Linked DNA regions of Homo sapiens: region 1 is linked to region 2. Evidence: fine-mapped expression QTL. A gene starts in region 2. The other region holds a variant in brackets. All regions are shown on one strand. Distances are between the middles of the regions. Region 1 overlaps SQLE (squalene epoxidase). Region 2 holds the start of ZNF572 (zinc finger protein 572).

Evidence for each region. PIP is the estimated chance that this variant, and not a neighbour inherited with it, causes the effect. A credible set is the group of variants that fine-mapping cannot tell apart.
Region 1: its variant is the best candidate, but not a certain one, in a credible set for the expression of ZNF572 in whole blood (INTERVAL, PIP 0.86).

Annotation. Positions count from the first base shown.
Region 1 is chr8:125,006,166-125,010,560 of GRCh38, reverse strand. It overlaps SQLE (squalene epoxidase), which reads right to left. Exons shown (of 11, transcript NM_003129.4): 4 at 3,074-3,170; 5 at 1,477-1,590; 6 at 1,218-1,389. Among named protein-coding and RNA genes, the nearest start is that of SQLE, 9.9 kb to the right of the region's middle. The variant A/G (reference allele first, on the strand shown) is at 2,460.
Region 2 is chr8:124,971,458-124,975,852 of GRCh38, reverse strand. ZNF572 (zinc finger protein 572) reads right to left here and starts at 2,558. Exons shown (of 3, transcript NM_152412.3): 1 at 2,437-2,558; 2 at 134-247. The coding sequence starts at 212. RefSeq lists an enhancer at 2,456-2,615.

The DNA.
Region 1 (4,395 bases), 35 kb before region 2:
TAATTTGTTACTAAAGTGGTTTCACTTAGTTTAAAAAATAACTTGAAAAAAACGGAATATTTAAACAAAATGTACTCATACCAAAAATAGTTTCCTATTACTCTAATCATATCATAATTGACAATGAGGGTTTCCCTTCAATTTTATCAAAATTCTTAAATTTTTTTTACTTTTCTTTCCTATATCATCCCATTCTCAAAAAAAGATCCTAAAAACTGTACCATGAAAACTTTAGATTTGTGAAAAAGTAATTTTTATTAATGTTTTTACAAAGCTATCTAAATCTCATGAAGCCTTTATATTCAACTCAAAACTAACATGATCCTGAAGATCCCTTACAATTCTCACATTCTGCGGACAGGACATGTCTGTTCAAACAGGCACATATGAGCCAGACAGACCTGATATCAACCCTGGTTCTGCCATTACTAATAGTTTATACTTGGAGGAGCTAACTAATCTCTCTGAACCTTAGTTCTCCCATCTGTAAAATGAGAATAATGATAATGCCTACCTCACAGAGTGGTTACATAGATTAAATGAAATTATGTTTGCTAAACACTTTATAGTAAGCATTCAAGAAATGGTAGCTGTCATTACTACAAAAACCAAGCACAAAAATATTTAGGTATAAGAGATAAAGAATTCAGAGTCAGATTCGTGTCCAGAGACTACCTTTAAAAATACCATATATGCCAATAAAAACAATTATTCTAAAAACTATGCTATTATGTGACAAAAACATATCAAAACTTTTTTTTTTTTTTGAGACGGAGTTTCGCTCTTGTTGCCCAGGCTGGAGTGCAATGGCACGATCTCGGCTCACTACAACCTCTGCCTCCCGTTCAAGCGATTCTTCTGCCTCAGCCTCCTGAGTAGCTGGGATTACAGGCATGCACCACCACACTCGGCTAATTTTGTATTTTTAGTAGAGACGGGGTTTCTCCATGTTGGTCAGGCTGGTCTTGAACTCCCAACCTCAGGTGATCTGCCCACCTCAGCCTCCCAAAGTGGTGGGATTACAGGCATGACCTACTGTGCCCGGCCCGAAACTTTTTTTTATTAATTTGGGAGTTTGTTTTGCTGTTTTTAAGTGCTAGTTTAAATAGTTCAGTTCCAGAATATCTGGTTGACTGGATGAATGTTTCACCTGCCATCCTTATCTCTGGCCTATTTTAGACACAGCCTTTGTAAGAACTGAAGATGCTATTTCTTACCAGGTATTTGTGGGTAAATTTTTTCAACCATGTATTCTCTTAAATTCCTTGGCATTTCTCCTCTAATGTCAACAAGTACTCGAGTTTCACTGGATGAAATCTGGTAGATGAGAACTGGACTCGGGTTAGCTAAAATAAGTTCAGCATGATTTGCTTTAAACTGTGGTGCATTCTAAAACAAATAAAAAGAAAATGTTTTAATAATTTTCAAATTTCAAGTTTCTTTTATTGAAATTACAATAACACACTCCTACAGTACCTTCATAAGAAAGCCAACAAAATGAGATGATACAGAAACTTTATTGGAGACCAGGCTTTTCCTGAACTTGGAGAAAAGCCCATCTGCAACAACAGTCAGTGGAGCATGGAGTTCCTATAACAGAAATGAAGACTACTCAGTTTAGTAGTCAGAAACACACAGTAAAAAAAGCCATTCTTAAAAAATGTGCGTGAAGAGATTTAGATATATTATCAGATAGCATTATAGAGAGTAGTTGAAGATAATACTATTGAAGAAACTGTTACGTGGGCTTCAGATAACGCATGACCAGTGTTTAGATACTTCCTCTGAGTCCCTGAGGATCATCTCCCTTTGTAGCCCTCCCATGCAAACCATCTGGGATTACTCTCCACTTTGACAGACAATGGGGGAAACAACTACAAGGCAGGCATGTAACACAGAGCAGTCAATCTCATTACAAATTCAAGGGACTAGCCAGATTCTTTCATTCTAAAATTTCCTAACTTCATATAGTGCTTTTAGTCAGCAGCTAGGGCTTAGAAGAATTTTTGTACAAATGACTACATGTATTTATAATACTACAGTATGAGCAGAGAAAACATTCCAGTCACCTTCATTAGAGGACAATTTCTAAGAGGTGGTAACCCTATGGGGAGCAGTCCAGAATTACATGTTTTTTACTACGATAATTTTTTTTTAAAAAAAGGAAAAATTGGCCGGGTGCGGTGGCTCACGCCTGTAATCCCAGCACTTTGGGAGGCTGAGGTGGGCAGATCACCTGAGGCTGGAAGTTCAAGAGCAGCCTGACCAACATGGAGAAACCCCGTCTCTATTAAAAATACAAAATTAGCCGGATGCGGTGAAGCATGCCTGTAATCCCAGCTACTCAGGAGGCTGAGGCAGGAGAATCGCTTGAACCTGGGAGGTGGAGGTTGCAGTGAGCCGAGATCGCACCATTGCACTCCAGCCTGGGCAACAAGAGTGAAACTCCGTCTCAAAAA[A/G]TAAAACAAAATAAAATAAAATAAAATAAAAGGATAAATTGTTTTTAAAAAGATTCTCTTACTATTACCTGAGTTAAATTGCTCATTTTATCTGAATCATTTCTTTTATGTTGAATCTTGCCTTCTTTCCCCTGCTAGTTCCCCTCTGCTTCTCTGCTGATGTATATTACTGTTTCAAAAACTATTCACATTAGTTCTGTTTAAAATGTTTTTTGCATAGCATTCTGAAGTCCTCTAAAGAACAATGTGTTGCAATCTGAAACCCATCCTGTTGCATATGGCTTAGAAAGAACTCAGTTCATTTGATAAATAACACAGGCTGAGTATCTCTAATCCAAAAATCTGAAATCCAAAACTTTTTGAGCAGTAATGTGACAAACAAAATACTCATTAGATCATTTCAAATTTCAGATTTTCAGATTAGAGATGCTCAACTGGTAAGTATAATGCAAACATCTGAAAAAAATAAAAAATCTGAAACACTTCTGATCCCTAGCATTTCAGATAAGAGATACTCAACATGTAAACCGGTAAGCCTACTTTTTTAAAGGGGTAAGTGAAAAAGCAGGAAAAACAACATCTCTTAGGAAGAGGTGACATTTGGTATTTCTCACCTTGATATCTCCAGTCTCTTTATCCTTGTACTGAACTCCCATCACAACATCATCTTCCTCTAATAACTGTAACACAACACCTTCAATAAACTTTGCACTAAAGAATAAAAAAAAATACATTTCTAAAGCAGCACATTTCAGCAATTTAAATTAAATATAAATTCCTTATCTCCAGTTTATCCATATAAACTGGACATGCATGTGTGTGCAAACACGTGTCCAATGTGTGTTTTTTATTTTCTAATTTATCAACATTTAATACATATTACTAATGATTACATTAGTAATCATTAGTAATCATTAAATATTTTAAAAATATTTTAAAAAGTAACATTGGATTTTCATCTTAATTTGTTAAAAATAAATTAATTTGTTAAAAAATAAAATATAGGCAGAGAAACTTTACATACCCTCATACATTCATACACAGAGGGGAAAACAAGTATTGGAATGCATCCTGCAAACTGTTAAGAGTAATTATTTCTGGCAGGGCACGGTGGCTCACACCTGTAATCCCAGAACTTTGGGAGGCCAAGGTGGGCGGATCACAAGGTCAGGAGATCAAGGCCATCCTGGCCAACATGGTGAAACCCCGTCTCTACTAAAAATACAAAAATTTGCCAGGCGTGGTGGCATGTGCCTGTAATCCCAGCTACTCGGGAGGCTGAGGCAGGAGAATTGCTTGAACTCGGGAGGCAGAGGTTGCAGTGAGCCGAGATTGCAACACTGCCCTCCAGCCCGGGTGACAGAGCGAGACTCAGTCTCAAAAAAAAGAAAGAGTAATTATTTCTAGTCAGAAAGATCACAGGTAATTTTTATAATCTTTATATTTGGGACTATTTTTCCATTTTCTTTTTTTTTTTTTTTGAGACCAAGTCTCGCTCTGTCGCCCAGGCTGGAGTGCAGTGGCGCTATCTCGGCTCACTGCAACCTCCACCTCCTGGGTTCAAGCAATTCTCCTGCCTTAGCCTCCCAAGTAGCTGGGACTGCAGGTGCGTGCTACCACGCCTGGCTAATTTTTTCTTATTTTTAGTAGAGACGGGGTTTCACCATATTGGCCAGGCTGGTTTTGAACTCCTGACCTCGTGATCTGCCCACCTCAGCCTCCCAAAGTGCTGGGATTACAGGCATGAGCCACCGCACCTGGCCGATTTTTCCATTTTCATACAGTGAACATACTCTTCTTCCATGGATATCAAGTCTTTTTAGTCCAAAGGATTAAGTCCACTTGCTTCTTCACTTGCTTTGTCAATACTTTAGTCTGTGTCAGTCACATGAGGGTTCTCACGCTTAAAACTTCTTCAATTAGTGTTTTAAAGGTT
Region 2 (4,395 bases):
ATGAGGCTGAAATAATTAACACAGCTTATAAGTGACAGAACAAGGAATTAAATTAAGGTTTGTCTCATTCTAGTGTCCTGTTCTTTCTACATCAAATTTCCTAAGGATTCAGATCATCGTCTTGATCCCTCACCTGTGAAAGGGCTTTTCAAACTCTCCCTCTCCATAAAGCTGTTAGAATCTGAGACCAACAGTTTTTTTTCTTGCTCCATCACAATGATCACAGCCAAGTTAGAGATCAGAAACCCTGTGGAAGGAAATAAATTATGTTTGGAGGTATTTGTTAAAGCTTATTCTTCCTCCTTCCTTCCCAACCATTCCAACACAACAATAGGAGGCATAGAATGTTCCATGAACCATACCGAAAATAAGAAACACAACTTTTAGCAGCCCTTTTAGAAAATCTTATCTCAGATCTAAGTGTTTAGAATTAAGGGTTAACCCTGAAATAACAATGCAAAAAAGTAAATCTTCACATTAAAGGTCTGAGGATCAAGCTTCAAAGACAGAATACTAATCCTCATTGTCCACACGTAGCTTAGAAACACTTTTACTTTAAAAAGCAAAGTATTTTTTTTAAGACACCAATAATAAAACTTATAAAGACTTCAAGGAATCAATATGAAGGCATAAGCAGCAGCTAAAGAAAAAAAGCACCCTGTTTAGTTTCAAAAGAATAACTTGGTCTTGACAGAAGGAAACCTTTGAAGTCAATTTCAAAGGAAAGTTAGGATTTATATAACCAGTAAAGAGAAATTAGGACAAAGCCGAGGTGGAATAATTATAGCCAATAACCCTGCAATATAAAAAGGAGGCTAAAGAGGGACCTCTTCCTCCTTGCACTTAGTTCCTAAGTCTATCATATTCACAATATCCATTTCAGCCTAAACTTCGTCTTCTGGAGCCAACAATCACTAACCTATTTTAAGGGACTAGAAAATGTTCCATCCTGGCTAATGCGGTGAAACCCCATCTCTACTAAAAATACAAAAAATTAGCCGGGTGTGGTGGCGGGCGCCTGTGGTCCCAGCTACTCAGGGGGCTGAGGCAGGAGAATCGCTTGAACCCAGGAGGCAGAGGTTGCAGTGAGCCGAGATCGTGCCATTGCACCACTCCAGCCTGGGTGACAGAGCAAGACTCTGTCTCAACAAAAAAAAAGAAAAAAGAAAAAGAAAAAGAAGAAAATGTGATCTATCACAGGAAGGCAGTGACATATGGACTTTTGGCATCCATTTCAGAATATAAAGAGTATCATTATTTGGGAGAAAAATAAGGACGTAAAAGGATATACAAATGCACACATTTTAAAAACAAAAAATAGTATATGTACTTATATTGTATCTTCACCATTACTGCCTATTATGTGCCAGGTAGTGAATGAAATAATTTGCACACATTTGTCATTTAATTCTTACAGTAGCCCTCTGAAGTGTATGAACAACTACCAGCATTTTATAGGATGAGTTTGAAAGGTATTAAGAAACTTTCCTAAGGTCACCTAGAAAGTGGTAGAGCAGGACTGAGCTCCAAGTCTGTTTGGATGCTGACCTTTTTCACCCTCTGATCTATTATCGTAAACTAGAACAGGAAGCAGAGCTGGGCATAATCCCAAACTGCAAAGAATCCTCAGAGTCCCTTTATTTTAGAATATTTAGAATACTGGCATTTTAAAACAGAGGTCTACATTCCTAAACCTTGTTAACAAAGTGAGTCGACATTCCCTAAGCACACTCAGCAAGTGGGGATTTGTTCTAGAGAAACGTGAAACTAGTCTACATTACTAATATCCCCAGTGTTTGAGTTGGGGGGGAGAAAAAACCATACACCTGAATGCAAAAAAAGGAAGGGGGTGGAGTTGTTCGAATGGAGTTATATATTTTGCTGTCCTAAGTTACATATTGTTATCAAAGTATTTACAAAAGCAGCAAGAGTCTGGGCAACACATTACCATCTCCCCCATTTTCCCTACTAAAATACTATTAAATTTGGCAGCAAAGGAGCCCCCGGAACAGTGGCTCAGCAAAATGGTGGCAAATGCAAGACCATACAAGGCTGCCATTAAGATGTCTCTCCACGGGGAAGGAGTGTTTTCACTGTTCTAGAGCAACAATGTGATCAGAGTGGGGCCGTGCTTTGATCAGAAAGCCTTCAAAGAAAATGCACTGCCTGAAGCCTAGTTTTAAGAACCGCTGGCTGGTACAAGTTGGAGACGCTGGGGGGTGAAGTTCCAGGATACCAGACGGTCTCCGGCCGACAAGATCCCGTAAGGGACCCCGCGGACAAGGATGACGGTGGCCCGTCGGCGGGAGATGCTGGGCCTTCGCCCCTGGCAGCAGCGGGAACTCTCTCCCGGACGTCCACTGCAGCCTGGACGGGGCTGTTTCCACTCCTCTAGCCCGCAACCCTCGGCTCCCTTCCCCCCAAGAAGGAACTCACTGTTCTGGGTGCTACACCCAAGGCGCCCTGCACCCCCAGCGGTCCGGGAGGAAGGTACCCCCTCTCCCTCTGACCCCACCAACCCAGGGTCCTAAACTCTCAAACCCGGAAGGCAGAAACAGGAAGTTACCCTCATCTCCCCCGGCGGCTTTGCTGGGGCCGTTCTAGGAAACAGTGATGGCCCACTCTCGTTGATCTTAACCCTTAGGGTCCTGGACCAGAAGGAGCGTGGGGGTGGATTTCCTTTCCCTGTGCTGTGACCAGCCAACTGTGAACCTCATTTCTCTCACTTGTCAGGCGGCTTACGACAGGGGCCTGATTGGAGCTTATACTTTTCCTTGCCATCAGAATATCATCAGATTAATTATCATCACTATTAGAATCAAAATCAATCTAGTATTTTTCTTTTTTGAGACGGAGTCTCGCTGTTGCCTAGGCTGGAGTGCAGTGGCGCGATCTCGGCTCACTGCAAGCTCCGCCTCCTGGGTTCACGCCATCCTCCTGTCTCAGCCTCTCGAGTAGCTGGGACTACAGGTGCCTGCCACCATGCCCGGCTAATTTTTATATTTTTCGTAGAGACGGGGTTTCACCGGGTTAGCCAGGATGGTCTCGATCTCCTGACCTCGTGATCCGCCCACCTCGGCCTCCCAAAGTGCTGGGATTACAGGCGTGAGCCACCGCGCCCGGCCTCAATCTAGTATTTTTAAACACCTATTGTTTCTGTTCCCACCGCTATGAACATGGATATATATTTACTTACCTGTGAAAGTTAGAAAGCTAAGGCATCCATTCACATATAAAACAATTCGTTTACAAGGCACCCTTATTAACACCTAGAAAAGTAGTTAATCCCTCCTCTTTCATTACAGAGAAAATAGAAGCCAATCCCTTCATCTCACCTCTACCAAACAGAAATCTACTCAAGTCTGCACCCTGCCGTTTTCTTTCTTCCCTCCTGTTACAATACAGAGTCCCTCTGTGACCTTTTTTTTTTTTTTTTTTTTTTTTGTGATGGAGTTTCACTGTGTCACCAGTCTGGAGTGCAATGGCAGGATTTCGGCTCACTGCAACCTCTGCCTCCCGGGTTCAAGCAATTCTCCTGCCTCAGCCTCCCAAGTAGCTAGGACTACAGGTGTGCGCCACCATGCCCAGCTAATTTTTGCATTTTTAGTAGAGACTGGGTTTCACCATGTTGGCCAGGATGGTCTTGATCTCTTGACCTCATGATCTGCCCGCCTCAGCCTCCCAAAGTGCTGGGCTCTTTGGTATTTTAATAAGCCCTTTACTGGTACTCACTTTCCTACCTATCTTCTTGGAAACTTCGCACTACCAACTAAACTCTCCATCCCTCCACCCCCATCCCCAAATAGTCCCTCAGCTTTTCTTTTCTCTTTTTACTCACAATGTTTCCATTTCATCAATTTTCCACTAACCTTAACATTTCTCCTGCAACAACAACAACAAAAAAATCACTAGCATCACCAATGACCTCCATGATGTTAGTTAGTGCAACTGGTATTTTTAGTTCTCGGGTCCTTTTTCAGGAGGTTTGATATGGCTACGGACTCGTCTTCTAGAAACACTCTTTTGAGGTGACATCACATTCTCCTCCTTTTCTTCCAACATCTCTAGTCAGTCCTGTTAGTCTCTTTTCCAAGTCAGTCCCTCAAGATCATCCTCTCCTCTTATCACTGAATGTTCTCTGCCTAGGCAATCTCATCCACTCCCACATTTTCAAATACCACCTAGGCAGACAACTCAAAAATTTACTTCTCCAGCCCAAGCTACATGTCTGAGCTCTTCACTCATAACCAATGGTCTATTTGGCATCTCATACAGGAAGTCTCAATAACACCTCAAAACCAAAATGTCAAAAATCAAAATCATAATCTGTCTTCTCTCTCACTGTTCTTCTCCATATACACATATAAACACAAAATAAAACAAAATAAACCTGTT